Homo sapiens: one gene and its partners. The main gene of each other region encodes a partner of the protein of the gene in region 3 in a complex. Each region holds a gene or a part of one and is shown on either strand. Other genes may lie near its edges.

The links.
Region 1: MAP3K5 (region 3) and ARHGEF6 share a complex: the UniProt entries of both Homo sapiens proteins name them as parts of the cytoplasmic complex.
Region 2: MAP3K5 (region 3) and DCP1A share a complex: the UniProt entries of both Homo sapiens proteins name them as parts of the cytoplasmic complex.
Region 4: MAP3K5 (region 3) and PAK1 share a complex: the UniProt entries of both Homo sapiens proteins name them as parts of the cytoplasmic complex.

Annotation. Positions count from the first base shown.
Region 1 is NC_000023.11:136,776,798-136,785,865, forward strand, and holds the start of ARHGEF6 (rho guanine nucleotide exchange factor 6), read right to left. Parts: upstream 4,136-9,068; 5' UTR 4,086-4,135; coding exon 3,921-4,085; intron 2,701-3,920; coding exon 2,617-2,700; intron 1-2,616. UniProt on the Homo sapiens protein: Acts as a RAC1 guanine nucleotide exchange factor (GEF).
Region 2 is NC_000003.12:53,308,704-53,317,755, forward strand, and holds part of DCP1A (mRNA-decapping enzyme 1A), read right to left. Parts: intron 3,677-9,052; coding exon 3,538-3,676; intron 1-3,537. UniProt on the Homo sapiens protein: Necessary for the degradation of mRNAs, both in normal mRNA turnover and in nonsense-mediated mRNA decay. Removes the 7-methyl guanine cap structure from mRNA molecules, yielding a 5'-phosphorylated mRNA fragment and 7m-GDP.
Region 3 is NC_000006.12:136,557,035-136,566,086, reverse strand, and holds the end of MAP3K5 (mitogen-activated protein kinase kinase kinase 5), read left to right. Parts: intron 1-3,471; coding exon 3,472-3,584; intron 3,585-4,441; coding exon 4,442-4,554; intron 4,555-7,210; coding exon 7,211-7,287; intron 7,288-8,268; coding exon 8,269-8,329; 3' UTR 8,330-9,041; downstream 9,042-9,052. UniProt on the Homo sapiens protein: Serine/threonine kinase which acts as an essential component of the MAP kinase signal transduction pathway. Plays an important role in the cascades of cellular responses evoked by changes in the environment.
Region 4 is NC_000011.10:77,320,620-77,325,249, reverse strand, and holds the end of PAK1 (serine/threonine-protein kinase PAK 1), read left to right. Parts: intron 1-1,889; coding exon 1,890-1,976; 3' UTR 1,977-2,095; coding exon of another isoform or gene 2,096-2,113; 3' UTR 2,114-3,233; downstream 3,234-4,630. UniProt on the Homo sapiens protein: Protein kinase involved in intracellular signaling pathways downstream of integrins and receptor-type kinases that plays an important role in cytoskeleton dynamics, in cell adhesion, migration, proliferation, apoptosis, mitosis, and in vesicle-mediated transport processes.

The DNA of each region.
Region 1 (9,068 bases), on a different chromosome or scaffold from region 3:
TCCCAAACTATGCATCTGACAAAGGTCTAATATCCAGAATCGACAAGGAACTCAAACAAATCAGCAAAAATAAATAAATAGATAAATAAATAAATAAATAAATAAATAAATAAATAAATAAAGTAGAAATAAAAATAAACAAATAGGCCGGGTGCGGTGGCTCACGCCTGTAATCCCAGCACTTTGGGAGACCCAGGCGGGCGGATCACCTGAGGTCAGGAGTTTGAGACCAGCCTGGCCAACATAGTGAAACCCTGTCTCTACTAACAACACAAAAATTAGCCAGGCATGGTGGCGGGCGCCTGTATTCCCAGCTACTCAGGAGGCTGAGGCAGGAGAATCGCTGGAACCAGGGAGGTAGAGGTTGCAGTGAGCCAAGATCACACCACTGCATTCCAGCTTGGGCAACAGAGTGAGACTCAGTCTCAAAAAACAAAACAAAACAAAAACAAAAAACAAATAATCCCATCAAAAAGTGGGCTAAGGACATGAATAGACAATTCTCAAAGAACATATACAAATGGCCAAGAAACATATGAAAAAATGCTCAACATCACTAAGCACTGGAAATGCAAATCAAACCACAATGAGATATCACCTCACTCCTGCAGAAATGGCCACAATTAAAAAAAAAACAAAAAATATTAGATGTTGGCATGAATGTGGTGAAAAGGAAACACTTCTACACTGCTGGTGGGAATGTAAACTAGTACAACCACTATGGAAAACCTTAAGTATGGAGATTCCTTAAAGAAGTAAAAGTAGAACTACCATTTGATCCAGTAATCCTACTACTGAGTATCTACCCAGAGGAAAAGAAGTCACTATATGAAAAGGACACTTGCACACACATATTTATAGTAGCACAATTTGCAATTGCAAAGTTATGGACCCAGCCTAAATGCCCATCAGCCAAAGAGTGGATAAAGAAAATGTAATATACATATATATAATATGTATACATACACACACACACACACACACACACACCATGGAATACTACTCAGCCATAAGAAGGAACAAAATAATGGCATTCACGACAACCTGGGTGGAGGTGGAGACCATTATTCTAAGGGAAGTAACTCAGGAATGGAAAACCAAACATCATATGTTCTCACTTATAAGGGGGAGCTAAGCTATGAGGATGCAAAGGCATAGGAATGATGTAATGGGCTCTGGGGACTCAGGGGGAAGGGTGGGAGTAGGGTGAGGGATAAAAGACTCTACATTGGGTACAGTGTACACTGCTCAAGTGATGGATGCACCAAAATCTCAGAAATCACCACTGAATAACTTATCCATGTAACCAAACACCACCTACCTGTTCCTCCCAAACTATTGAAATAATATTTTTTAAAAAGGTCACACGAGTCCTATGAATTCGGTGCCACTATTATTCCCATTTTGTAGGTAGGAAGACTGAGGCCTAGAGTCATAGTTAAGTAACATGCCCAAGGTCACAAAGCTGCTAGTAAGAGAGAACTGAGATTTGAACCCAAAAAGTTTAGCACCACAGTCCATGCTTAAACCACAACTATTTGTCCACGGATAATATGACTAATACTAGTCTATTAATATAGAGTACTTCTTCTGTCCCAGGCCCTATGCTAAGGACTCTACATAAATTATCTCATAGATCTTACAAGGTTGGAGCTCTTGGCCCTAAATTATTATGCAGTATCTTATTTGATTCTTTTTTTTTTTTTCGAGACAAGGTCTCTTTCTGTCATTCAGGCTGGAGTGCAGTGGTGCAATCACAGCTCACTGCAACCTCCACCACCTCTTGGGTTCAAGCGATCCTCCCACCTCAGCCTCCCGAGTAGCTGGGACTACAGGCACAAGCCACCACGCCTGCCTAATTTTTGTATTTTTTGTAGAGTCACCATTTCACCATACTGTCCAGGCTGGTCTCGAACTCCTGGGCTATAGCAATCCTTCTGCCTTGGCCTAGGATTAAAGGCATGAGCCATCATGCCCGGCCTTATTTGATTCTTAAAGCAATCCCATGAGTTGGCTATTAGCATGTCCGTTTTACAGATAAAAATACTGAAGCACAGAGAAGTTAAGCAACTTGATGCTCGTGTGGAAGTATCACCTCCCTTTCAGTAACACTTCCTATACACACTGTAGGGATCCATATAATATAAAATAATGCCACAAAATTTACTATACAATTTCTACCTCAAAGCCAAGTTCTCTCAGCTTTTCAAGGCCTCTGTTCTAAAGTGTTAATGGGAAGGAGTAACAATGGCCTTTCCTCTTTTCTCAACTTGGGAGGATTACAGTGACCCTCTCCAACAGTCAGTGGCCCACTTTTGGTTCCCCTTAGTAGGAGAACACACCCACACAAGCTCTGTCACTGGAAGCCTGTTTACAGGGCTTGGATGCTGTATATAAAAGGCATTATTGTGTGAGTTTTTATTTTGTTTTGTTTTGCTTGGAACTGGTTTCTGGAAAAGACAGACTAGCAATCCATTACTGGGGACCACCAGTCTGCTACCTCTGTTTAACTCAGTGGCCAATGACAGTGAAAATAAACAAGTACTCTTACTACCAATCTTGATTAGCAGAGCAAAAAAACGATGACAACAGGGAAGGCACCCGGGGTAGGCTTACTTCCACTTGGAGGGTTGCACATCCTTTCAGGAAGTCATTGATGTTGTTGATGCAGTCAGCTTCAGTTTGGGGATCCAGACAAAACTAGAGGAACACAGTGAAATGTCACTTGGAGATTGTCATCCCATGCCAAGCAAAGTATACTCATCATTTGCTGATAACTAGAGAAAGCAGGCCTCTTAAGGTGTGGGGCAACACTGCTGTCAATCCAGGAAGAGAAATAACCACTGAAGGAAGTGATGCAAAAATCTAAACGGTCGATCTTTGTTTCAAATGTCACCAAACCTTTAGTGGCAAGCCATGTCTACTTACAAGCTTTCTCTCATGCCTTCTGTTCCAGTGTGCTGATGGCAAATTAGGGAGACCAAGACAGTTTTTTGAGCTTAGTTCTTGCTTTCAAGAAAGGAAGCAATCCCTGGTACCTCTCTCTCCTCCTTCCCCCTGATAATTTAATAAAATTCTATTTCCCCTCTACATTTGACCACACTTCTTTACATTTTATCACTATTTAATCACTCTTTCTCAAGTTTAAGAAATTATAAGTAAATTTATTTGCTCAATAAAAATACAAACTGGCTCATGAAGGCAAAAGTGCTATGCTCACAGTCCATGATGACCTTAAGAAAGTAAATGTAAAATTGTACCTTTAAGCTTACTTAAAGTGCCTACTTTAGAAATTATCTATTCTCGTGATCGTGGATTTCCAGCTATTAAAAATCTTGAATTGTTTTAAAGAGAGTAAAGTTAGTTTCACTTTGAACGCACATTGCATTCGAAACATATATCTGGTTTCTATTGCTTTTACAAACTTTATGTGACATTTTGAATTATTTTTTTCCTAGTTGCTATATAGTCTCTCCTTCAATGGATTTTTCTAAAAGGAAATCTACACTGATTTTAATCAAACTGCCAATAAACACCACCAAGATCTGTTATAAATCATTCTATTTTTCCACAGACTCATAAGTACCCCAAGTTCAAAACATGTCCTCGGTACACAAGGAGATGTAACATGCATCTCCATGATAGAGCAAGCTTGTGATATGAGTGTTCTCCTTGTCCCTTGTTGCCAGTGGTGTCACAGGTTTTCCCTATACTACAATTTGGGGGCCAATTACTAAAGAATAACGTTTCATTTTCTTACATTTTCAAACTACAAAAACAGTAAGAAAGAATGTCTAACTCTTAGAAAAATATTAAAGTAGGAGATTCCCATGGCCTGGGAAATAGAAAAATCTCAAGAGTTACATGATTGCTGCTCTCTGGTGATAAGCAATCCCAAAGAGACTGCAAATTTCCCTTACCTTTTCCACAGAGCCAGGCATGAGTCTGTTGATCAGTTTGCACAGAACTACCCCATTTTTCAGCGAGGACTTTAAAAACTCCTCCGGATCACAGATGGTCTTTTTAGGGGACTCTAAAACTCCCAAAGATATAAGCCATGTCACGATTTGTTCTTCTGGATTCATTACTGAGGACGGTACACTCCAAACAGCACTCTGGGGCAGCTGCAAGGACTAAGCCACATCCGCGATTGCATCTGCTGTTGTCTTCCTTTTTATGAGTTCTCTTCGGGTGCTTGCAGAGCAAAGGTTTAAAGCAACTTTTCTTAAACAACAGCGGAACCCACTCAAAATATGGGATTTTAAAACCACAGAGATCACGGTCCAAGATGTGGAAACAGATAAGAATTAATTTAACAATCCTGGATAACGCTGGTTTTTCCTTTTCAAAACCTGCAAAACAAATTCGTTAGGATAAAAAAAAAGAAGAAACGCACATGCACACACGCATACACACACACGCACACAGAGTGCAAGAAGTTATAAGGGAAGAAAGTGAAAAGGATGCTGGGGAGGGAGGAGAGACAAGCAAGCAAGTGCTTTGGGAAACAGAGGTGAGCCAGCACTTCAGGGGACCTTGGAAATGAGACACTCATGGGCCAGTCTGGGAAAACACTGTCAATAAATAGTCTAGCCCCAGTGAAAATCTGGCTTCTGTTAGGAGGACGATGCCAACTGGCTCTTAGGTCAGACAGATCTGAGCCTCATGGGGAGATGTGCTGGCACAACAGGGCTCAAAGAAGGTAGACAGAAAATTCTTCCAAGAAATAGCCGGATGTCCTCATAGTATCTCCCAGAGATGGTGTGTCACGATCATTCCTTGCAAAACACGTTGAGTTGCATGGTGACAACGTGCCAAGCAAACGAAGATTATGCCTGCTGTCAGCCATCACTGTGTATAAGCAGAAGCTAGAAGAATGGCATTTTACTTTGCAGCCAAAAAGCTATGTTTAGGGAAATAGGCTAAGGATAACATCTGACATCCTGTTTACTTGCATTCTTTAGCAATTCTTTTTCTGGACCTGGTTCCACTACATAATCCAGCTGCAGTACCCTTAGCAAAGGCTCAGACTCAGTCACATAAGTGGGTAAAATACACTTGAAAAAATAGAATGTTTGAGAACAAAAGAGCACTTGTCCTCTGTCTACACTACAATATGGAAGATTCTTATTTTCCCAACAACAACAACAACAAAAAAACACTTTGCACTTAAAATACTGCTCTGAAAAAAAAACTGTCTATAACAAGAGATCTTCATCATTCTCAAACATTTTCAGAACCACTTGAAATAGGCATACTATTGGGAAATTTATGATAAGGCCAACTTTAATAGTATAACCCTATGTTGGCAAATGTGTGGCACTTACCATGATTACCTCTCCTCGTGCATGGGAGACATCAGATCATGTATAGCTCTTTCCTACTAAGCCTCAGAATTCTTTTCAACACAGCTTCAGGCATCTACTACCAAAGAATCAGCTTAGATAACCCTACTAAACATTTTCAAAGCTGCCCTTTCTTGCTCTGTCAGGACACTTGTCACACTTTACTATTATCACTTGTTGATCTGATGATCTGACTCCTCCACAAGAATGTAAACTTCCTAAACTCGGGGTCTTGTTTTTTTTTATTTAACACTGTGTTACCAGCAGACTGCCAGGTATACACAGTAGATGTTAAAAAATGCTGAATGAATAAATGAATGTATTCAGATGGTGTCCCTGATATAGACAGTAACTGATTATAGCAAGGATTTTTTGTTTGTTGGTTGGTTTAAATGGCTTAAAACAAACATTTTTTCTTGTTAATGATTTTTACCATTTTATTAAGCTGTAATTGACACATAAGGAACTGCATATATATGATTTAATGAATTTTGACATATACATACATCTTTGATACAATCACACAAATGCAATCCAGATAAGCCTTTCCATCACCCCCAAAATTGTCCTCGTGCCCTTTCAATTCTTTCTTTCCTCTTTGCCTCCAAATGCCAGGCAACCACCAATCTATTTTCAGTGTCTATAGATTAGTTTGCATTTTCAAGAATCTTATATAAATGGAAGTACACAGTATGGTACTATCTTTTTTCTGGCTTCTTAACTCAACATCATCATTTTCATACTCATTCATGTTATTGTGTCTGTCCATAGTTCTATAACAAGGTTTGCTTGATGTACTTGTGACTTAAGCAAAATAAGTATAATCAATCAAAAGTTTTCATTGACGTTGACCCATGGCCAAATCTATGTAATGGAAATAAAAACAGAATACATTTGTTGATAAATAAAATTCCCAAATCTGACGAACTTAAACACATTTTTATATGTCATCTGAACAGTTTTCACAACTGCTCATCAAAATTTTACTCTACAGACAAACAAAATCTGGCAGTATTATTGAGGTATCACTTACATCTTCTGATGAAGAACAAAGCCTGAGTAAGTTTTGTGAACCCAGCCTCCTCCAAAACAGTCTTGAGTTCACCAAGGTCATCTGGATAAAACTCTGCCTCATTTTGGACACTCACTATAGCAAATATTACTATGAGTAATAAAGTATATCAGAATGGCAAGGCCACTGCCTCAAGGCAAAAGAACCAGTTCTATTTGTATAAAGATTGGAAGTTACAGTTGGTGTGGTAAAATGTCAACAAAGCAAGGAATTCCAGGGCAGTGGCAAGCATATAGGTGAAATGGGTACCCATGAAACCCAGGCTGGTTAGGGACTCAAATGAAGCTAGAAAGGAGCTGATGAACTGAGGGAATAGGGGAAGAGGGGGAATTCAAAGACTGGGGGTCACAGCAACACAAAGAGCAGGCTTCACACAAGAGCATGAGAAAAAAAAGCAAAGATCTCTCACCCTACCTCAGATCCTCAGTACCACACCCTCTGGGCCACTGAACCTGCCTCTTCAAGGGCTTTCCACCTCCATCCTCTCATCCTAATGAACTCTCTAACAGGGCACATTTGGGTTGATTTTCCAAAAACACCTCTAGTGTTAATACCCCTGTTCAAAAACCCTCAAAGGCTCTCTATTGCCTAAAGCAGGAATTGACAAAAAACAATGTTCATATGATCATCTCCTGTGAGGCATAAAGGAGAAAGGAAGGTGAGAGTGGAACTTAAGCTAAAATAGGTAACATTTCATGAAAAATCAAAAGATCTTCAGGAAATAAGGCAAATGTGAACATTTGTTAAGACTGAATGCTGGGTACACTGGTACCTGTTTTACTATTTAGTTTTGTGTGTTTAAAATGTTACTAACCGATTCTCTTTCATTTCAAATCTACTAAGGCACTTACTAAAAAAGAATATTTGGGAGCTCTCTTCCCAGATACTCCAGTTCAGAAGATCTGCAGTGGGAAAAAGGAATTTGTGTTATCAAAGTATCCCACTTGATTCTGATGCAGATAGACCAAGGTCACACTTAGAGAAATGAGTTTATTGGTCTCTAACCTTCTACACCACTCTAATTTCTGCCAACACTTGGGTCATTTCAATATCCACAAGAACAACAATCCAACATCAAGACCTCTCAGTTCCTTGAACTTCTCAACCTGTAATCAATTTATTACCTCTCATTTCCCCTTTATGCCTATTCTGTGAAATGGACCTGGGACCTTGAAATATTTCTGACTTTGCCAGCTGGCATGATACAAAGTTTTATCAGTAGGCAGTGGTGGAGAGACATTGCAGGAAGAAGGGGTTTTACTTCCTGTTTTCTGTGCGCTCACTCCACAAGCTCCTGCTGAGCTCCCAGCTTTCCTATTGCCCACCTTCTGCAGCACTGGTTTTCCCAACAAACAGTAGGTAGCAACCTCCCCAGGCACTACCCTTGAGTGTTTAGGCAGCAAAGAATCTCTGATGAGACAGACACCTTCCATGTGAACCAGCACCGTAGAGGGGTATATTTCAGCAAGTTCCAGAGAATGTACATCCAACAAGTTCCACCAACTCAGCACCAGAGCAACTTCTCCAATAAGGCCTGGATCTCGACCGTGGGTGGAGAGGAGGGTTATCACAGCTCTAGAGGTATCGGCCATTACATATTATTTTTATATTGTCTGCTATTTATATCTGCTATCCCATACTTTTTAGAGTTTCCTTTATTTATTACTAACCAATTCTTCAACACTCCAATCCCCTGTTATTGTTAATTCTTTATGTTAAACTCTTCTTGTTAAAATTACTATGTAGTAGGCTGGGCACGGTGGTTCACACCTGTAATCCCAGTACTTTGGGAGGCCAAGGTGGGCAAATCACCTGAGGTCAGGAGTTTGAGACCAGTCTGGCCAACATGGTGAAACCCAGTCTCTAATAAAAATACAAAAATTAGCCAGGCATGGTGGCGGGCATCTGTAATCCCAGCTACTCTGGAGGCTGAGGCAGGAGAATCGCTTGAACCTGGGAGTCAGAGTTTGCAGTGAGCTGAGATCGTGCCATTGCACTCCAGCCTGGGCGACAAGAGCCAGACTCCATCTCAAGAAAAAAAAAAAAATACTATGTAGTGTCTATGTTCTGATTGGACACCAACTGATACACCTTGTTATCTTAAATGTATACTTCCTCTCCACTTTAGCTAACCTCTTGGAAGGTTACACCTTGTACTTTTTTATCACACAAATTTCTCTGTCTCCTAAGTCATGAATTCCAACATTAGTTTTTTTTTTTTTTTTTTTTTTCGAGACAGAGTCTCGCTCTGTCACCCAGGCTGGAGTGCAGTGGCGCCATCTTGGCTCACTGCAACCTCCACCTCCCAGGTTCAAGCGATTCTCCTGCCCCAGCCTCCTGAGCAGCTGGGACCACAGGCGCGCACCACCAGGCCTGGCCAATTTTTTTTGCCTTTTTGGTAGAGACGGGGTTTCACCGTGTTGGTCAAGCTGGTCTCGAACTCCTGACTTTGTGATCCACCCGACTCAGCCTCCCAAAGTGCTGGGATCACAGGCATGAGCCACTGTGCCCGACCCAACATTATATTTTCTAAACAACCTACCATCTTTCCAGCTTGCTTGTTACTCCCACTACAATTCCTTGACCTCATAGGTATCTGCAAATCTTTTTTTTTCTAAAATGATTATACAAATTTACATTCCCACAAGCAG
Region 2 (9,052 bases), on a different chromosome or scaffold from region 3:
CCGCCTCAGCCTCCGGAGTAGCTGGGACTACAGGTGTGTGCCACCATGCCTAACTAATTAAAAAAAAATTTTTTTTTGGTAGAGACAAGGTCTTGCTATGTTGCCCAGGGTGGTCTGAAACTCGTGGATTCAAGCAATCCTCCCACCTCGGCCTCCCAAGGTGCTGGAATTATGGGCATGAGTCACTGTGTCTGGCCTCTATTTTTTAAGAACAAAAATACCCTGGACTTTAAAAAACTGTTTTGCAATTAAACTAAAACCAAACAAACAACCATCCGCACCCCCCTGACCAAAATCCAGGATTACATCCTATGGCTAGAAGCAACTCATAATGGGCCAAGTGTGGTTTCAACTATCTTTCTTTACATAAAAAATAAGAAAGTTGAGGCTAGGTACGGTGGCTCACGCCTGTAATCCCAGGACTTTGGGAGGCTGAGGCGGGCCAATCACGAGGTCAAGAGATTGAGACTATCCTGGCCAACATGGTGAAACCCTGTCTCTACTAAAAATACAAAAAATTAGCCGGTCATAGTGGTGCATGCCTGTAGTCCCAGCTACTCAGGAGGCTGAGGCAGGAGGATCACTTGAATCTGGGAGGTGGAGGTTGCAGTGAGTCGAGATCGCGCCACTGCACTGTAGCCTGGCAACAGAGCGAGACTCCATCTCAAAAAAAAAAAAAAAGGAAAGTTAATTAAAAGATATTATAGAAGTGCAATATCTTTCTTTTGAAGAAAATGCTTATTATACAGATTTTTAATTTTCAAACAGTCTCTAGGCTGGCCACAGTGTCTCACACCTATAATTCCAGCACTTTGGGAGGCCAAGGCGGGAGGACAGCTTGAGCCCAGGAGCTTGTCAAGATCAGCCAGGGCAACATAGTGAGACTCTATCTCTACAAAAAATAAACAAAATTATCCAAGCATGGTGATGCATGGCCTATAGTCGTGGCTAATTGGGAGGCTAAGATGGGAGAATGTCTTGAGCCTGGGAGGTAGAGGCTGCAGTGGGCCAAGATTGTGCCCCTGCACTCCAGCCTGGGCAACAGAGAGACCCTGTCTGAAAAAAGAAAAGAGTCTCATTATTACAAGTGCTCATTCAAAAGTCTGAAATTTCGTTCATTATATCATACTCAGCAGATAGCGGAGACTCAGAATCAGGATTAAATCCCAACACTGAGGCCTAGCTTGCACCCCTGCCCTTGATTGCCAATCTTCTGAGTCTTCACCTAAAGATAAACAAAGGGGCCGTCTGAAAAAATGTGGCAGCTGAAGGGAGCCCATCCAAACACCAAGACCCATGAATTCATGGGTCACTGCTTATACCAGCTCCATCTGATGAGATGATAGACAAATGCAGATAAGAGAACAAAACTCTAATTCAAAGAAGCTCCACCTATTGCAGACAGTTTTCAAAATCAGAAAGAACACATGATAAAGTAAATATCAAAGATTTAACCAAATCCCAAAGGGTTTCATTTTAATCTACCCATAGACGATATTTTATTCCATAGTGTGAAAGAAGTTTATTTAAAACAGAAACTATCATGCTATCTATATTCCTTTTGTAATATTGATATAATTCAAAATAATGTCAGATGTTTAGATTGCCCACCTGACCCTAGAGTTCCTTTAAAGTTTTGTGTTCAAAGCTAATGTCTTATTTCCTACTTTCTCGTTGTGGCTACTTAACCTCTCAGCCTGAGTAAGCCAGGCCACTTACTGGAGTATCTGCTTTAGTGCGCAGCACCTACAGTTTCTGTCCCGTGTGGTACCTTGATACAGTTATTACTCAGGATGAGTGACAGAGCCCTGGACTTACTAGGTACCTATGAGAACACTGAAAGGGCTCTACAAACAGAACAAAGTATGTACGTAGAAAATCCGCTTGTCATCAAGGGTAGAAGAGGGGAATGTAAGGTAACTTCTAAATCAGAAAGCCATTCTTGAAGTTAGTTCTCATTTGGTTTCCTAAGAATCGATTAATTTATTAGAGAGGTGACTGCTCCTCCAAATTTAACTTCCATAGATCCATTCATTCCTCCTAATTCTCTGTGAGACATTGAAGAATTTGGTACAAACTTGAAACTTCTCATGGGCTCTCATGTACATTTCTCCACCCTGGAGGTGGGACTTCCTTTGTTATCAGAATGTAGAAGGTCTATGTAGTTTATGGTGAACATGCCTATTTTTAGTCAGAAGAAACTATCTTTCAGAACACTTTTTTCAAACTTTTTCCTGAACTCCAAATTCTTGAGTTGTTAAAGGGCAGTATGCAAAAAATGGTCCTGCAGTCAAGTCAATCTGGGAATTGGTGTTATTGTTTTACTTATTGCAGGACCTCTCAGTTTTGAGCTCTGTAAAGTCCCAAGAGGATGGGAGGAGGAAGAGTCATGCTAACAACAGTACCTTAACTCGTTTTGCCAATTTGAAGCTTTTTTCAGGATCACTGATTAATAACTTAGTAGCTGGTATTATAGCAGAACTGTATGGGAAACAGGGTCTTTTGGACAGTGCTTTTTCACATTTTGTTCCTTGAAGTTCTGGTGAGGTGAAATAGGCATGAAAGGAAAGCACTTAATTCAATATTTAATGAAGAGTAAGGTGACAGTATAATTCTGCTAAAACAAAGTTCAGCAGTAGAGAGCTTGTCTCACTCCAGTGAAGTGTGGGGGCTTTGAGGTGCCAAGTAAAATTCCAGGAGAGTCATAACCATGAAATGCCCACTGCTTGCACATAGTAGATGGTTCATAAGCAGGTATTGAATAAATTAACGAAAGTACCACAATTGCCATTTTATTCAACTTTTGGGAGAAAATTTTATCAGCTAATTTATAAACTAAAATGCACAACAGAAGAGAAAGAAAACAGTGAATTTCAGAAAAGCCTCTCATTTGGGTAAAATTCCAAATGAAGCTTAATGAAGGTTGTGCATCTACCACCAATTACAGACCATGAGTGTATTTTTTAGTATTATGTGGTACAAACTATCAGAATACTTTTCAAAGCCTAAACAAATTCCTAGGACCACTGAGGATCCTAACAGAAACTGCAGTGGTGAAGAAGAGGCACGAAGCTTTACCAGAACTAGCTGCTGCGAGCTAACTTCTGCACTCCAAGACCATCTTCTCCCATAGTAATCTTATAGGAATAGAAAAAAGCATTGTAAATTTTCCTGCCAAAAACAAGTAATCTGGGGTAAGCAAGTTCTTTCCTTATGTTTTAGGTTTAAAATTGTAAGACACATCTGTTTTAAAAAAAAAAAAAGAGAGACACAGGGTCTCACTGTTGCCCAGACTAGAGTGGAGTGGCACAATCATAGCCCACTGCAGCCTCCAACTCCTGGAGTCAAGTGATCTTCCTTCCTCAGCCTGCCAAGTAGCTGGGACTGATTACAGGAGTGTGCTAACACGCTCTCTTTTTGAACTTATATTTCTGCCGTCCCTGGAGGCCAGCTTCCCTAGTAAAATAGTCTCCTGCAGACCTCCTCCTCCCGTTTTGGTCTTCCCTGGTCAGCACCCAAGTACCCAGAGAGCCTCACCCTCTCATACTCATCCTTGGCTCTGCTCAGCATCTCCAGGATGTCGATGGGCCTGTGGTCGCTGCAGCCATTGGCCTGGCTGGGACTCTGTTTGTCCCGAGCAGCTTGCTGGGATCGCCGTGTCTCCTCTTCTACCACACTAGAGGAGAAGAACAAGGTTTTAGAAAGGCCTCTTGAAACAAAATCTGACCCAAGATTTCTTTTGGTGTTCATCTTCCAAGGATACACTAAGAGTGTCACATGATGACATTCTTCTTTTTTTTTTTTTTTTTTGAGATGGAGTCTCGCACTGTCGCCCAGGCTGGAGTGCAGTGGTGTGATCTCGGCTCACTGCAAACTCCACCTCCTGGGTTCACACCATCCTCCTGCCTCAGCCTCCGGAGTAGCTGGGACTACAGCGCCCACCACCACACCCGGCTAATGTTTTGTATTTTTAGTAGAGATGGGGTTTCACCGTGTTAGCCAGGATGGTCTCAATCTCCTGACCTCGTGATCTGCCCTAGGCCTCCCCAAGTGCTGGGATTACAGGCCTGAGCCACCGCGCCCAGCCGATTACATTATTCTTGCAATATATAACACAGAACTTCAGTTACCTCATTTCAGAAATAAATGACTTACCATTTCACCGTCTCATTAACAGTGCCAATATTTACCCTTCAGAAGGATAAAAATACAGAATTCCTTCCTAGAGTTGGCAGAGATGCATTACAAACTCCACTAAGGTTTCTCCCTTTTTCCCTTGAAGTATTTCAAAATCAGTCAAACTAATTGCTAAAGTAAATATGAAAACTGACAGTTCCACCAAGACACAGGAAGGCTGCATAGTTGAACAAATCCTCTGTGGAAAGTTTGGATTGACACTGGGCTAGCAAGGACAAAGTCAGTTCTTGAAAATAGAGGTCTTGGTGAATCCTTAAAAGTTAGTAACACTATAAGCAAATAAAAGGTTTCCCTTATTCTCCCTTTTAAAAACCACCAACTTAGCCTGGGCAACTTGGCAAAACCCCGTCTCTACAAAAAATACAAAAATTAGCTGGGCGTAGTGGTACACGCCTGTAGTCCCAGCTATTTGGAAGGCTGAGGTGGGAGGACTGCTTGAGTCTGGGAGGTAGAGGCTGCAGTGAACTGAGATCACACTACTGCACTCCAGCCTGGGTAACAGAGTGAGACCTTGACTCCAAAAAAAAAAAAAAATCACTAAGTGGGCTTTCAGTTTTTAAGAACACCCCCTTCTCCCTTGTAAAGAAAGATCTGAAACAATTACAGCAAAATATTAGGAACTGAAAGCTGGGTGGTAAGCACATACATATTTTATTATTTCCTATATTTTTCTTCAAGCTTTCAAGCTTGAATAATAAATTTTAATAAAGCAACTTTTTTTGTTTTTTTTAAGATTCATTCAGGCCAGGCACAGTGCTCATGCCTATAATCCTAGCACTTTGTGAGGCTGAGGCAGGACGATCACTTGAGCCCAGGAGTTTGAGACCAGCCCAGGCAACATAGTGAAACCCTGTTTTAAAAAACAAAAAACCCAGCCTGCACAGGAGCTCTCATTAGAGTGTGGGGAAGAGGTGAACAGAGATGGCTTTTTTATTTAAAAATACTGGGTTAAACAATATTAAACCGACTTAAAAAAAAAGAAAAAACAGAATCCTTGAGTTTTATTATTATTTTTGTAGAGATGGAGTTTGATATGTTGCCCTGGCTGGTCCCAAAACTCCTAGTCTCAAGTGATCCTCCTGCCTCAGCCTCCCAAAATACTGGGATTAAAGGCATGAATTACCACAACCCACCCATTGAATTTTTGTTTGTTTGTTTTATTTATTTTTTTATTGTACAGACAAGGTCTCACCATGTTGCCCAGGCTGGTCTCAAACTCCTGGCCTCAAGCAATCCTCCCACCTCAGCCTCCCAAAGTGCCGGGATTATAGACATGAGCCACCACAACTGGCCAGTTGATTTTTAAGCATGCTAAAATTTATTGTGATTCTCCAAGAAGGGCAGGCCTATAGATTTTCTCAAATTTTATTTGACTATAGAATTTTACTCTGAGGTAGAATTCCTGTTTGGAAAATGTGGCTTTAAGGTAACATGTAGTTTTTCTATCTAGATTCATAATTATAGCTCTTAATAAGACTATTACTTCTAAAACAAATGTAGCATCATGAGCTTCATGGTAGACTGAAAGACTGGTATGGGATATGAGAATAAGACCAAACATGAATTGTTTATTTAATGCTCAAATATAGGCCACATCAGCCTGAATCCATCTTCATAAAGGATCTGTCACACGGCCTGTTTTCCACCTACCTCCTGACATGTTGCCTGACTTGGCCATGCTGGTATTTAACTCTTCCCTGACCCAGACTAGGATCTGTGATTCTGTGATTATTTTGGTTTAAGAGAAGAATATTTCTTTTCTTTTTCTTTTTTTTTTTTTTTTTTTTTTGAGACAGAGCCTTACTCTGTCACCCGGGCTAGAGTGCAGTGGTGCGATCTCGGCTTACTGCAACCTTCGACTCCCGGGTTCAAGCGATTCTCGTGCCTCAGCCTCCCTAGTAGCTGGGATTACAGGTATGCACTATCATGCCCGGCTAATTTTTGTATTTTTAATAAAGACAGGGTTTCACCATGTTGACTAGGCTGGTCTTGAACTCCTGACCTCAAGTGATCTGACCACCTCAGCCTCCCAAAGTGCTGGGATTACAGGCGTGAGCCACTGCGCCCAGCCAGAACAGGTAATTTTATAAAGCTCACCACTGCTGAAAGCAGAAGCTGTCGGGGGTGGTAATGGAAGGGACTCTCACATAAACGAGGCTTGGACTCTAAGGCCTCTTCTAATCCAAACTTTATGGATAGCACTCATGCCATTCTCCTTTCCTTTCAAACACCAAAACCTACCCCTAAGATGTCTGTAAGATCAGGAATAAAGCTTACTTCCATGAGTTCTCCAAAGTTTACATAGTCTATGTGGCCAAACCGTCAAACAACTTTTTATTGTTAAAAAGAGTTTCTGAGGCCGGGTGTGGTGGCTCACGCCTGTAATCCCAGCACTTTGGGAGGCCAAGGTGGGTGGATCATGAGGTCAGGAGTTCAAGGTCAGCCAGGTCAAGATGGTGAAACCCTGTCTCTACTAAAAATACAAAAATTAGCTGGGTGCAGTGGCAGGCACTTGTAATCCCAGCTACTCGGGAGGCTGAGGCAGGAGAACTGCTTGAACCCAGGAGGGCGGAGGTTACAGTGAACCCAGATCACGCCACCACATTCCTGGGTGACAGAGCAAGACTCTGTCTCAAAAAAAAAAAAAAAAAAAAAAAGAGTTTCTGGCAGACTGGATTTCCTCTTTAGGAGAGTCAACAGCTTCTAAGTTTAGTGGGTTTTCAACTCTGCCACCACTGACCAGAGAATATACAAATTTAGATGACATAGGGTCTAGAAGCTCACTCATTTTCCTACATAGTTTCTCGTTTTTATAAACATTGTTTGGAGTAAATCAGTTTGTTGTTTTTTTTTTTTGTTTTTTTTTTTTTTGAGACGGAGTCTCGCTCTGTCGCCCAGGCTGGAGTGCAGTGGCACGATCTTGGCTCACTGAAAGCTCCGCTTCCCGGGTTCACGCCATTCTTCTGCCTCAGCCTCCTGAGTAGCTGGGACTACAGGTGCCCGCCACCATGCCCCGCTAATTTTTTTGTATTTTTACTAGAGACGAGGTTTCACCATATTGGCCAGGATGGTCTCGATCTCCTGACCTCGTGATACGCCTGTCTTGGCCTCCCAAAGCGCTGGGATTACAGGCGTGAGCCACCGCGCCCAGCCTGGAGTAAATCAGTTTTTTTACTTGGAGGATCTTTATTATATTGTGGCTGTCAAATAGTGATGGGAAGAACTGTATTTAAAAGAATGGGCACTGATGGACACATTTATTTATATGTATAATATACTAACAAGAACTGTGCTAGTATTTTTGGATAGTAGAGGTGATATTCTCAAATATGTAGCAAACAACAACAACAAAAAGTAACAAACAGGTTTATGCAGGCAGATTTAGAACAAAGACAGATAGTCTTCTTTAGTTTTGGTGACCAGAGAGGCATTTATCACAAAGTTAATGGTAACATACAATATTCTCTTCAGCTATAAATAGGCCAGACACTTAAAACTCATTATCAACAGTTTCACCAGGGTATTCTCTAATCACTTTTTTTTTTTGAGATGGGATCTCACTATGTTGCCCAGATTGATCTTGAACTCCTGGGGCCCAAGTGATCTGCCCACCTGGGCCTCACAAGTATTATAGCTGAAATGACAGGTACACACCACTGTGCCTGGCTTCTCTAATCACTTTCTTTTCTTCTTCCCTTTTTTTTTTTTTTTTTTTTTTAATTAAACAGAGATGAGTCTTGCTATATCAGGCCAGGATGGTCTTGAACTCCTGGCCTTAAGCAATCCTCCCCGCCTTGACCTCCCAAAGTGCTGGGACTACAGGCATGAGCCACTGTGCCCAGGCTCAAATCACTTTTAATAACACATCTGTTTCTAGTCAAACAAGCTGAAAATTTAAGCAATTGTCCCTTTTCGGGCATTTCTGGTGAAAGAAGCCCCAATGCTCTTCTTTTCCCTTCCAGCTTTCCATTTCTACTCCTAATCCTATTTCTGGGTTCAATAAAATATTTTTAGATAGGCCTTCAGTCTTCAGCTTCATTTATCATTTGAAATCTTGCATTAGGGGTAACACTTGCCCTGATAGATAAACGGTTTTCTTTCAATAGTTGTTAGAGCTAAAAGAGCCAGATCATTTCACTCAAAGCCCACGTCCTCATTCTGCAGGAGAAAGTGTTTATATATTAATACATTCCAAAGTTTAGAAAAAATCTGGATTTCTGGATAACCATGAATCAACAACCCTGTGCCTTTTTGTTGTTGTTGTTGTTGTTTTTGTTTTTTTGAGACAAAGTTTCACTCTTGTTGCCCAGGCTGGAATGCAATGGCGCGATCTTGGCTCACCGCAACCTCCAGCTTCCGGGTTCAAGTGATTCTCTCGCCTCAGCCTCCCGAGTAGCTGGGATTACAGGCATGCACCACCATACCTGGCTAATTTTGTGTTTTTAGTACAGACAGGGTTTCTCCATGTTGGTCAGGCTGGTCTCGCACTTCCAATCTCAGGTGATCTGCCCGCCTTGGCCCACCAAAGTGCTAGGATTACAGGCGTGAGCCACCGCGCCCAGCCAACCCTGTGTCTTCTAGGTAACCACAAGTAAGCTGCCTTTGCTGTCACTTTCAAAGCTAAAACAAGTGATCATCTAATAAATGGCTATGTTGAAAAATGGTTTTAGCTGGGTATGGTGGCTTGTGCCTATAGTCCCAATTACTTGGGAGGCTAAGGCAGGAGGATCCCTTAAGCCCAGGAGTTTGAGACTAGCCTGGGCAATACGGCAACATCCTATCTCAAAAGAAAAAAATTAAATTAAAAAATGAAAAATAGTTTTATCTTTTTTAAGAGAAAAAGTGTTCTAAAAAC
Region 3 (9,052 bases):
CGCTTTCTTCACAGCTTCCCCTTTCTCTTCTGAGTGTCTCTTGGTTCTAGCTGAGGGCCTGCTTCTCACATCTGCCCATCTCTGTTGAAAAGACTAGTATTTACCCACATTTCTTTATTACATTAGTATGTCACAACAACCCACACATTTACGCTTTTTCCTCTGCATATTTACATTTGAGTCTGTGAAATCTACAGATAATCAGCCTCGTTTTTCCTTTTTCAGTAATATCTCCCACGGCTTTCCATCACCCACAGAAAAGTGAGATGAGGGACGATGTTTGCTTCATGCATGATTTGAAGAAAGGACAGCTGCTTTAGTACAAAAACCAAGTAATTGAAATAAGGGACCAGTCCTGTCCATATTGGTCCTTCTAATTTTCAGTTGAATATTACCTGAAATATAAAGGCATACCTACCGCAAAATGAATCTAGAGGAAATGTTAGTGTGTTTTCAGGAAAGGTTGTAGCTCTCATATTAAAAATTGTAAGCTTAGAATATTTAGGATGATCACTGATGAAGGGAAATCAGGTTTATCCTGCTTGGAGGATCACCTGAGCCCAAGAGGTTGAGGCTACAGTGAGCCATGATTGCACCATTGCACTCCAGCCTGGGTGACAGAGCAAGACCCTATCTCAAAAACAAAAACAAAAACCTGTCTCAAGAGGAGCTGCCTGTTTATTTAATTTCCCCATCCTACAGTTCTGGAATTACCCACCAATCCACCTCATCACCCCTGCCCATCCAAGGTTAAAAATTGACCTCATGGCAGATCCTGCCATACTTTTTTGGAACAGAAAGGCAGACAGTTGCCTTGATTTCAAAATATTGCCCTGCTAAATAAACACAAAATAAAAATAAAATTGATGTACTGGATTGTTCTTAAGATAAATACTTCTAAGAGCTGGATTCGGAGCAAATGAGGTGGGCTGTCAATACTCTGCTTCCAGTGTTGAAGTTCTGGTGTTTAAGGTGTTAAAAGAAAGCTTCAGACAAATTAAATTTAATGGAGTTTAATTGAAAAAGAAAAAAATAGTTTGTGAATCAGGTGGCCTCTAGAATCACAGCAGATTCAGAGAGATTCCAGGGATGCCTCGTGGCCAGAACAAATTTATAGAAAATAAAAGTAAAGTGACGTACAGAAATCAGAAGTGTGCAGAAAGAGCTGGATTTGTTATGGGTTGGCGTTCACCTTATTTGAACACTCAGCAGTGTATGAGTGGTTGAAGTATGGCTCCTGGGATTAGCCAAGACTCAGCTATTGTTATAGACGCATACTCCTAAGTTAGGTTTTCAATCTTGTCTACCTGTTAAGTTATAGTTTGTCCACGAGGACTCAAATATGCAAGTACGGAGTCCTTCTCAGGCCATATTTCATTCACTTTAACAAAAGATAAAAAGAAATTACATAGTCTAGACAAACATAGGTTAAACTCTAGAAAACATCACTGTGTTCCTTGAGAAAACAGTAAGAAGATACCATCACTGTCTTATACGTATAAATTAGCAAGTAGGACAAAAATACATACCAGATCAAAAAACTGCCAACTTAAACATTCACACAGAGCTTCCTGCCCATTTCTTTGGATAATATTTGTTTTGAAAGAGATAAGAAGCCTCCCTCCAAGACCCTGTGCTCCCTCTTCTAGCTTTCAGTTCATGCTGCTTCATCCACCTCATTGTGCACCACACTTACCCTGCAGCTGTCTTTGTTAACTTATTTTCCTCCACCCACCTTCTCTGTCTACCTCTTATTGTGTTTTACTTTTGTCCCACCTCTGCTACCTACTCTGCTGTGATCCCTTCTCTCTGAGGATCTCATCTTTATGTCCTGTGGGAATGGGGTCGAGCCTGGGGGTCTGGGAAGGTTTCCTTCCCACTGAGTCCTGGAAAGGCTCTTTTCCAGGGACTGAGGTAGCAAGGAACAGAACATCCCTTATTAAAGACCAGACACTGACTTGGCACTGTACCTATGCTGTCTCATTTAATGCTCACAATAATCTTTTCTGGAAGCTTTAGTTTTCTTTTTTACAAATGATTTGAAAACTGAAGCCTGGAGGCATTAGGTAATTTATCTAAGGTTAACACAGGAAGTGCAGGGTTGAACCAGGACACAAGCCCAGATCTGTCAGTTGCACGATGCTGCCTTCAGATTATGTCAAGTGAAGCAGAAACAAACTCTTGAGTTAAATCTATCAATACTCAGAAAATGAAACAAATAGAGTTTGTTAAGAGCTGTAGTTTATGCAACGATTTATCCTGATAATCTTAATAACGATATATTTTAAATTATTATTTCTGAATCCAACTTACATTAAGATACTTTTCTAAAAAATTAGAGCACCTCTTTTCATAACTTGGAATGTTTTCTTTGAGAAATTCTATTGGAAATGGTGAGTAGGTTACCAGTTGGCTCTCAGTTGCATAGTGAACCTTCTATGGGTAAGAACTTTGGTATGAATATCACAGTTTCTCCTTGTTTCTTTGGAGACTGCATCAGATGCCAACTAGGAACTGAATGTACCAGGAACACAGCTATCCTTTTACCCACTTCACCCCCGCCCCCTTAGAAGGAAGAGGAATAATAGTAACAATCACAATTGTAGCAACAACCGTGAACATTTACTGAGAATTTGTTATATGCCAGATATTCTAGGCGACCTCACCTATGACTGTTTCTCAAATTTTCATAGTTTACAAAAAGTGATTACTTTTCTGATTTGCATTGATTATGAAATTATGCACATTTGCCAACTTTTTTTAATGGGGGTCCATACATGTAAAATATAGGCCTGTTAATATCTGTATCCCATATTTATATCTTTGACATTTATGGTCATAACAAGAAATATCAGGACACATCTCTGAAGATTTTGGCAGACAATCTGTGGTGGAGGTTTTGAATTCTTGTCGGCAAGCACAGTCTTCCAAAGCTTAGCTTCTGGACCTGAGGGTCTGTGAACCTGCAACATCAGTGTCATCTGGGAGCTCATTATAAATACAGTCTCAGAACTCACCCCCGGGGCACTGGACCAGTATCTGTATTTCAATAAAATTAGGGGTGTATGTGCTTATTATAGCTCATGTCTAGAAGGTCATCCTAGGCCTGGCACAGTGGCACATGCACACACCTATAATCCCAGAGCTTTGAGAGGCTGAGGTGGAAAGACCACTGGAGGCCAGGAGTTCAGAGACCAGCTTGGACAACATAGCAAGACTCTGTCTCTACAAAAAAAAAAAAAAAAAAAATTAGCCAGGCATGGTGGTGCATGTCTGTATTCCCAGCTGCTTGGAAAACTGAGATGGGAGGATCGCTTGAGTCCAAGAGTTTAAGGATGCAGTGAGCTATAATTGGGCCACTACACTCAGCCTAGGCAACAGAGAGAGACCTTGTATCTAAAAAAATAAAAATAAAAAAAAGAAGGTCACCCTGTGTCACCTCCTGTCAAACAATATATTTTTCTTCTGCAGATTACTGGAAGAATTGGTTCGGAAAGAGAAAGAATTACAAGCACTCCTTCATCGAGCTATTGAAGAAAAAGACCAAGAAATTAAACACCTGAAGCTTAAGTCCCAACCCATAGGTGAATAGCAGAAAGTTTTATAGTAATACTGTTCAGCCAGGCTGCCACAAAAAGCCAAGAAAGCCAACAGGAAGTTTTATTTGTGGCTAAGTCAGCATTTCTCACTTCTACCATGACTGCAAGCAGGAATTCCTTTAAAAAAAAAAAATCCAGTTTTTAACTGTAGCAAACTCATTTCTTATAAGTGCAGTAAAAATAGATTATTCATAATCATCTTTTCCTGAGATTATGTATTACTGAGGTAAACAGGGCTCTCTGTTTTTAGTCTTTATTTTTAAAGATTTCACAATGAGCTTACTAGAATAAATAATACTATTTTTTGTCATTTTGCATTTATATTCTGTGTATTCTAGCCTTTTTCCTTATAATTTGAAGAGGCTTAAATAGAATAAAGATGTAGTAGTAAAAAGGCATAGCTGGGGAGAATGTTATTTAGCCCATTTAGAGGAAAACAGAATTCATAGTTATTTGTTTAGATATGTGGCTCTTTCATAGTGGAAAAAGAGATTATGATAATTATATAGTTCTCTGCTAATTGTATTCATCTTTATTGCATGAAAAACACAAAGTCTAATTTTGGTGCACAGAGTTTATTCTAAGAAACCATAAAATTGATATGAAAGTGTAACGTAGGAGTGTCATTTCATTATTGCTTTTGCTCCTTATTTACTAGTAAATTCACTTCTCTGAGTTTTATTCATATTATCATCTATACTGCCAATCTCAATTGTTTCTATGAACTGTTCTCTGATAGAGCAAAATCTTTTAAAGTATCAATAAATGTCTGTTGATTGTGAGGGTCTCAGATGACCTCTGTTAGGTGAAATTAAGAATATCTTCCCAAAATTCTGTTCTAGAAATTCCTGAATTGCCTGTATTTCATCTAAATTCTTCTGGCACAAATACTGAAGATTCTGAACTTACCGACTGGCTGAGAGTGAATGGAGCTGATGAAGACACTATAAGCCGGGTAAAGAAAACTGTCTGTGGGACAAGTATTCTTTCACTTCGTTTCATAATGTTGGGTGCCTGCTATGTGACAGGCACAGGGGATACACTGGTGAGCAAATCAGACCCAGCCCTGCCCTCCTGAGGCTTACAGACCAGGGTAGGCACGTGATAATCAGCTAACTCCACAGATACAAATGTGATTCTACACTGGTAAATTCTATGAAGAAAAAGGTATCAGGTGTTTATTAGATAGGGCGAGAGAGGTTGGGGAAGGTTGTTGGAGAAGGGAATGAAAGAGCTGAAGGCTAACAGAATGTGAGGGTATAAATAGGCCAATTGTATGTATGTTCAGGAGGGGTGTGGGAGGGAGACCAGGGAAGAACCTTGTGCAGTGGGGCTGCAGTGTGTACAATCCAACGAGGCAGGCAAAAGCTCTGTGGTCCTGAGCCCCTTAGGAATTTTATGTATTTGAAATGAAAACCAGAAAGAGTGGGAAAAAAATAAAGACAGGACTAAAAGAAAAAATTTCTTGTTTCTAATTCTTTGTATGTTAATTTTTATTTTATTTTATTTTATTTTATTTTATTTTATTTTATTTTATATTTTTTTGGAGACAAGGTCTCGCTCTGTTACCCTGGCTGGAGGGCAGTGATCATAGCTCCCTGCAGCCTTGACCTGCTGGGCTCAAGTGATCCTCCCACCTTAGCCTCCTGAATAGTTGGGACTACAGACATGAACCATCATACCCAGCTAATTAAAAAAAAAATTTAGAGATAGGGTCTCGCTATGTTGCCCAGGCTGGTCTTAAACTCCTGGCCCCAAGCGATTCTCTCACCTCAGCCTCTCAGAGTACTGGGGCTACAGGCATGAACCACCACGCCAGGCCTGTTTGTTAAATTTTTAATTCTTTTTCAACATTATTAGATTCCACTGGGCAGCAGCTATTTTATTGCTACTTAATAAAATCAATCTGGTCGACTTATTTCAGAAATATTTTCTATACAAACCATATTTTACCTGTAATAATCTAATTCCTCTCTGCTCTGTATAGACTTTTTTTGATTTTGTTTTTTGAGACACAATCTCACTCTGTCGCCCAGGCTGCAATGCTGTGGTGCGATCTCAGCTCACTGCAATCTTTGCCTGCCAGGCTCGAGAGATTCCCTGCCTCAGCCTCTCAAGTAGCTGGGATTACAGGCATATGCCACTAAGCCTGGCTAATTTTTGTACTTTTAGTAGAAACAGGGTTTCACCATATTGGCCAGGGTGGTCTCGAACCCTGGCCTCAAGTGATCTGCCCACCTCAGCCTCCCAAAGTGCTGAGATTACAAGTGTGAGCCACTGCGCCCAGCCCCTATAGACTTTTGTAATGAGCGTGAATAGCATTTGTTTATGTTCATTATATGAACACACAGGCATACATTAAAACATTGTAATATTTGATAGAAAGACCCTCTTAATACAATATTGTTTTGTTTTATATTTAAATTTTAAAAATAAATAAGAATAAAGATATCTCTTCTTTTGACTTGATAATTTATTAACTAAGTAGAATTTCGGGCCGCCTTAGAAATCTACATTTAACAAGTTACAGCTGAATAAATTTAAACAACTCCAGAATATACATTCCTCTAACTTAGGCTCAAATCCTAATTAAGGAATAGTAATTGATAATCTACTAAATAATCACCCTTTTTATTTGGTTTAAAAGTAAAAGCTTGAGGCCAGGTGCAGTGGCTCCTGCCTGTAATCCCAATACTTTGGGAAGCATAGGCAGATTGCTTGAGGCCACGTGTTGGAGATTAGGCTGGTCAATATAGTGAGACTGTCTCTATATATAAAAAAATAAATAAAATTTAAAAATATAAAGGTGCAGTTTAAATTAAGACTCTGCTTTTATGGTGAATTACAGTCAAGTGCCTTTGCTTAACCATGAAAAAATAAGTTCAGAAATTAAGCATAGGCAGTACCTTTCCAGGAACACTTTTTATCCACTTGAGGAAAAACAAAGCTATGTAGCATTGAACTTCTAAATACAAGATTTGCTTTTGAACAGCAGAGTGATTACAAGTGAGTCTCATCTGTTCATTAGAAGACCATTCAGAAGTTCTGTGTCACTTGTAATCTTTTTGCATTTGGAAGTTAATATGGATGCATTTCTTGTTTTTGTTTTTGTTTTTGTTTTTGTTTTTGTTTTTTTGAGACGGAGTCTCACTCTGTCGCCCAGGCTGGAGTGCAGTGGGTCAATCTCAGCTCACTGCAACCTCTGCCTCCCGGGTTCAAGCGATTCTCCTGCCTCAGCCTCCCAAGTAGCTGGGATTACAGGCATACGCCACCACGCCCAGCTAATTTTTTGTATTTTTAGTAGAGATGGGGTTTCACCACTTTGGCCAGGCTGGTCTCGAACTCCTGACCTCAGATGATCCGCCTGCCTCAGCCTCCTAAAGTGCTAGGGTTACAGGCGTGAGCCACTGCGCCCGGCCTGGATGCATTTCTTTGTATTTATTGAGTAACAGGGAGGCCTTTCCCCTAATAATCCTGGAAGATTGTGTTTTTAGTAGATTTCATTTTTAGATTCATTTTTAATTATAGTCAAGGTTTACATTATGAATAGAGTTTGTGCTTTATTAAAGTTATATAAAACATCTTTTGTGCATATTCTACTTTCTCTACAGTTTTTGGCTGAAGATTATACACTATTGGATGTTCTCTACTATGTTACACGTGATGACTTAAAATGCTTGAGACTAAGGTACCACTTTTCTTTCTGTTGTCACTATGGAAAGAGCACCAGGCAAATATCAAAAAGTCTGAGTATCTTCCCAGGCTGGGTCTCTAATTAGCTTTGTAGTTCTGGACAGAGCTCTCTAGCTCTTAGCTGCTCTGAGTAAACTGAGTTAGTTGGACAATGATATTTTTGAGGGCTCTAATAACCAATATTTCTATATTAGTAAGTGAAAATCAACTGGAAGAATTTTTTTGAATAAGATGCAGACTAAGTCCATGCAGATATTCTGAAGCTGCCTTAAACAAATGCTTTAATTGAGTTCATGATGGTGTTATACTCAATAAATATTTGGAGGAGGTGCTGACTTGCCCTCCAAAAACCTGGTATAATCTGATATAATTTCTTGTTAATTAAGGCCAAGCATATAACTTTTTTTTTTTTTTTCGGGATGGAGTCTCACTCTGTCACCCAGGCTGGAGTGCAGTGGCGTGATCTCAGCTCACTGCAAGCTCCGCCTCCCAGGTTCACGCCGTTCTCCTGCCTCAGCCTCCCAAGTAGCTGGGACTATAGGCGCCCACCACCACGCCCAGCTAATTTTTTTGTATTTTTAGTAGAGACGGGGTTTCACTGTGTTAGCCAGGATGGTCTCGATCTCCTGACCACGTGATCTGCCTGCCTCGGCCTTCTAAAGTGCTGGGATTACAGGCATGCGCCACCGCGCCCAGCCCAAGCATAAAACTATTATACCCACCATTATAAAGACAAATTTCAAAAATGCTGAAACTCTAAAATGATGTTTTGGGACATAGCAGTTTGTGGGAGTGAAAAGGGAAGGAATGGAGGGAAGATGAGAAAAAATATACAAAAAGAATACATAATAACTGATCAGACTTTGGGATCTTCTTCTGACCAGAGCAGATGAAAGCTAAGAAGTCACTTTTCTATTTCAAGGGCAATGTTTCAAATGAAATGTTCGTTTCACCATGTTCTTGTGTCTTTAAACAGGGGAGGGATGCTGTGCACACTGTGGAAGGCTATCATTGACTTTCGAAACAAACAGACTTGACTGTTGCTCAATCTAATCTTCGATGGAAATTCTAAAAATTAATACAGAGCTGATCTTCTTGGGGGTGGGAAAATCGAAGGGAGAGGAGAAAGGCGCTGCACTTTAAATCCAGTATTTGTTTACTCATGTTAAAAAAAAAAAAAACAGACAAAACACACTGAAATTTCCTAACTACATCTATTTCTATAATTTTTAAGGACTCTTCATAAGGACTCTTAAAATAATCCTGAACATTAGAACCCTAATGTTCAGGAAGATTTTAATCTAAGCATTTTTATGGAAATATTTTTAATGCAGCAGCTATTGCACTTCAGCCAAATGTTTATTTCACACAAAACGGATGTAACATTTCATGTGATCGTGCACCACTGGAACAAAACCAAAATGTGACCATAACTGTTTAGGCTTCTGTGTGTTTGTAATATGCTCTAATAATCTGAGTAGAAATGCGTAATTTCAATTACTGTATAAAGTTTATGTTTTTTTAAGTGTGCAGAATCTGAGAGCAATGGTTTTTACTTCTCTGTGTTAATTGTAATATTGACTCTATTTTGTAACTTAAGTTTCTGACCTGTCGTACATTTGTTTGAGTCGTTTATGTACTACTGAACTGTACCAGTTGCACATGCTTGAACTGTAGTAATGTTAGCTTGTTCTAAAGCTATCCATTGTGTCATATTTACTCTAAAAATTAAAGAGACTCTCAACATACTGTTTTGATAA
Region 4 (4,630 bases), on a different chromosome or scaffold from region 3:
AAGAGTATCACAACTGGAAGCCCTTAGGGCTCATCTAGTCTGTTTTGTTTATTAGACAGAGAAGGAAACTGAGGCCTCCCAATTCGATGTTGGATCATGCTGCTCTCAACTTAGGGGAATTGCAGAAACATGTGATCTGAGAAAGCTGGCTTTTTAACTTGTTGGTGTACATTGTAAATATTGAAAACCATGACTTTGAGAATCACAAATCATAAAAGCTTCACATCTGTTTCTCCTGTGAGAACACACTTATAGACAGAAATACATAGAATGATATATATTGGAATTCATATCTTCATGATTTAGCTAGGATCTTTTATTCCTTTCATAGTAATAGTACGTTCTTGTTCTCAGTAGCTCTTTATACTATCTCTGTCCCAACAGAAGTTGCAGCAATTCTCAGCAAAGAATATTAGTATATATGTTTCTCTCTCTTTCTCTTTCTCTCTCTCTCTCTGTCTCTCTCTCTCTCTGTGTGTGTGTGTGTGTGTGTGTGTGTATACATATATACAATATGACTAATCAAGGGAATTGTAAGTATGGCAGAAGAATCAGATATGCTCATGTGAGTTGAGTAGTTATGTTTAGAGGTCAAATCTGGTTCTCAATTTCCTGGTAGCCAGGGCAGAAAAGGAAATGTGATAGCTCCTATATTTTTTATCAAATAGAAGAACATCCTACAGCTTTAAGACACAAAGCTTTTTTACTACTAAATGTTTAAAAAGAAAAAAAAGCACCATTTTTAAGAGGCTCTGAGAATTACATAAGGAATTGTTAGACCAGGCACGGTGGCTCATGCCTGTTATCCCAGCACTTCGCGAGGCTGAGGCCAGTGGATCAGTTGAGGTCAGGAGTTTGAGACTAGCCTGGACAGTATGGCAAAACCCCGTCTCTACTAAAAATACAAAAATTAGCCAGGTGTGGTGGCGGGCGCCTGTAGTCCCAGCTATTCGGGAGGTTGAGGCAGGAGAATTGCTTGAACCCAGGAGGCGGAGGTTGCAGTGAGCCGAGACCGCACCACTGCACTCCAGCCTGGGCAACAGAGTGAGACTCCGTCTCAAAAAAAAAAAAAAAAAAGGAATTGCTTTCTGTAACAGTTTTACTGAAAATTTAGATGCAATTTTCATATAATATTTTCTCCTAAATAGTCATTAAATGTTGAAGGTATGGCCCAAAGTACAGCCCAGTGAAAGTGATTTGGGAAAGGACCAAGCTACTGAACTTTTTACTGAATGATTAGCATTATTGGATTTGAGGATAGAACAATAAATTCCTAGATCAATGCTCCTAAAATGCAGTATTGCGATATACTACTGGGTCATGATCTATTAATACCTTCCCCAGAGGTAATTATTATTCTGATTATCACCATGGTTAGGCTTACCTCGGAAGAAATGGAATAATACAATATGAACTTGCTTGTCTGGCTTCTTTCCCTTAATGTGTCTGTGAGATTCAACCCATTTGTCAGTGTACCAATTACTTATTGTATTGCTGTGTAATTTTCTGTATAGTATTATATGAATATAACACTATTCATTTTTCCATTCTCTTGGACATTTGGGTTCTTTCTGGTTATTGGCTATTATAAGCAAATCTTTTATGAACATTTCTGTGTATGTCTTTTGGTGGCTATACAAACTAATTTCTCTTGGGAATATACCTAGGATTGGAATTACTAGAGTATAGGTAGATGTATTTATCTGTAAGTAGATGCTGCCAAACAGTTTTCCAAAGTGGTCTGTTTTAAGATGTCCTTCAATTTGGGGATGATCAGAAGCTTTCCACACAGCACCCTTTACAAACAAAGATGCCTTTATGTCTTGTAATGGTTACTGGGGAAGAATGTTAAATAGTCATGTGTCTTTTGCTATTTTTCTCCTTTCTAGCATCAATTCCTGAAGATTGCCAAGCCCCTCTCCAGCCTCACTCCACTGATTGCTGCAGCTAAGGAGGCAACAAAGAACAATCACTAAAACCACACTCACCCCAGCCTCATTGTGCCAAGCCTTCTGTGAGATAAATGCACATTTCAGAAATTCCAACTCCTGATGCCCTCTTCTCCTTGCCTTGCTTCTCCCATTTCCTGATCTAGCACTCCTCAAGACTTTGATCCTTGGAAACCGTGTGTCCAGCATTGAAGAGAACTGCAACTGAATGACTAATCAGATGATGGCCATTTCTAAATAAGGAATTTCCTCCCAATTCATGGATATGAGGGTGGTTTATGATTAAGGGTTTATATAAATAAATGTTTCTAGTCTTCCGTGTGTCAAAATCCTCACCTCCTTCATAACCATCTCCCACAATTAATTCTTGACTATATAAATTTATGGTTTGATAATATTATCAATTTGTAATCAATTGAGATTTCTTTAGTGCTTGCTTTTCTGTGACTCAACTGCCCAGACACCTCATTGTACTTGAAAACTGGAACAGCTTGGGAATGCCATGGGGTTTGATAATCTGCCAGGGACATGAAGAGGCTCAGCTTCCTGGACCATGACTTTGGCTCAGCTGATCCTGACATGGGAGAACAACCACATTTTTCTTTGTGTGTGCTTCTAGCAGCTGTTCGGGAGGACCTTGACCCAATAGTGTTCCCATGCTGTTTCTTGTGAAATGCTCTCGGCTATGTAGCAGCTTTTGATTCCCTGCATACCCTAGGCTGCTGCCCCTATCCTGTCCCTTGTTTATAACATTGAGAGGTTTTCTAGGGCACATACTGAGTGAGAGCAGTGTTGAGAAGTCGGGGAAAATGGTGACTACTTTTAGAGCAAGGCTGGGCATCAGCACCTGTCCAGCTCTACTTGTGTGATGTTTCAGGAACTCAGCCCCTTTTTCTGCCTAGGATAAGGAGCTGAAAGATTAACTTGGATCTTCTAATGGTCCAAATCTTTTGGTCACAATAAAGAGTCTCCAAATTAGAGACTGCATGTTAGTTCTGGATGGATTTGGTGGCCTGACATGATACCCTGCCAGCTGTGAGGGGACCCCGTTTTTAAGATGCATGGCCAAGCTCTCTGCAAATGGAAATGCTTACACTGGGTGTTGGGGATGTTTGCTACCTCCTGCTATTTTTGTGGTTTTGGTTCTCCCACTATGGTAGGACCCCTGGCCAGCATTGTGGCTTGTCATGTCAGCCCCATTGACTACCTTCTCATGCTCTGAGGTACTACTGCCTCTGCAGCACAAATTTCTATTTCTGTCAATAAAAGGAGATGAAAATATTCTATTGGAGTATGCCTTTCTTTTTTCTCTTCGTTTTTTCTTTCCTTTTCTAATTTTTTATATGAAATAATGAGTAGTTTCTTCCTGAACCATTTGAGAGTGGTAAGTTGCAGATAGAATGCCCCTTTACCACTATATACCTGAATGTGTATTCTTTCTTTTTAACACTTTTATTTTAAATATAAATTAAGAGAAATGGGCCAAAACCATTTGTATTGTTTAAAGAATAATTATAAACACACTTGTATCCACCAAATCAAGAAATGGAACACTGACAGTAAGAACCTTCTCTATCTTGTCCTTCCTTTCTCATTATAGCCCCCACCTAAGAGGTAACCACCATCTTGACTTTTATTTAAATAACTTTCTTGCTTTTCTGTATACTTTCATCACATTCAGGTGTGTTCCAATACAAGTAGATTTTAGTTCGGCCAGTTTTTGAACTTTAAATAAACATATCATAATAGATATATTCTTTTGTGCCTGTTATTGTTTCCACTCAAGATTATGTTTTTAAAATATATGTACCTAGTTTGTGTGTAGCTCTAGTTCATGTATTATTCCGGCTGTAGGCACTTGAGAGGAAAGTTAACTTGTCCAAGATGAATTCCCTGAGGACTGGCCTCCCAAAGGATTTGGTTTTCTGCAGAACTCTATCATAATGGACTACAGCCAACTGCTCAAGGCAGTCATACCTGGTAGAATTCTCAGGTGGCTAATTAGGCCATGGGTCTATCACATCCTACAGCTACAACCATAAGGCTTGAGCCCCAGCTCTGATCACACCAGAGAAAATGCTTCTCAAAGATGGCACAACAGAGCTAGAGGCCAGTGTTCTGTCGTGTGGTTTTACTATTGGATCCCAGCACCTAATACTACTAGAGAAGATGTAGTGCTTCTTAGGTGTGCAAAATATAATCCCCATGGCTCAATGCCTGTAGTCCTTCTCCGGAGTATGATATCTGGGCCCTACTACATTTCTTTGCCCCAGAAGGTGATGGGCATTAGAGTTTCCACACTCTGGATAATGTTCCTATAACCACACGTTTCCACCAATAAAGCAGGCTCCAAAAGGTCTGGAGTGGATACTGCCTCATCAGCTGCACACTTCATAATGGCAGCAGTAACTGTGTATTATGGAAACCAACCAAGGAATTAGAGAACCAAGATTCACCTTGGGTGAGAAAATGCCCTCTTGGCACAGGAGCTGGCCAGCCATATTCAAAGACTGGGATTGTGGGTCACTGACTGGTTGCAGGAACAAAACCTGCCAAGCCAAGGAATTTAAGAGTTATATTTCTGAGAATGGAGATCTAGGGGTGGGGGATGTCACCCAGGATGGTATTCCAAGATTGTTTTTAAGAACCTTAGAGTCACCTTTGAGGAGACTTTCACTGCA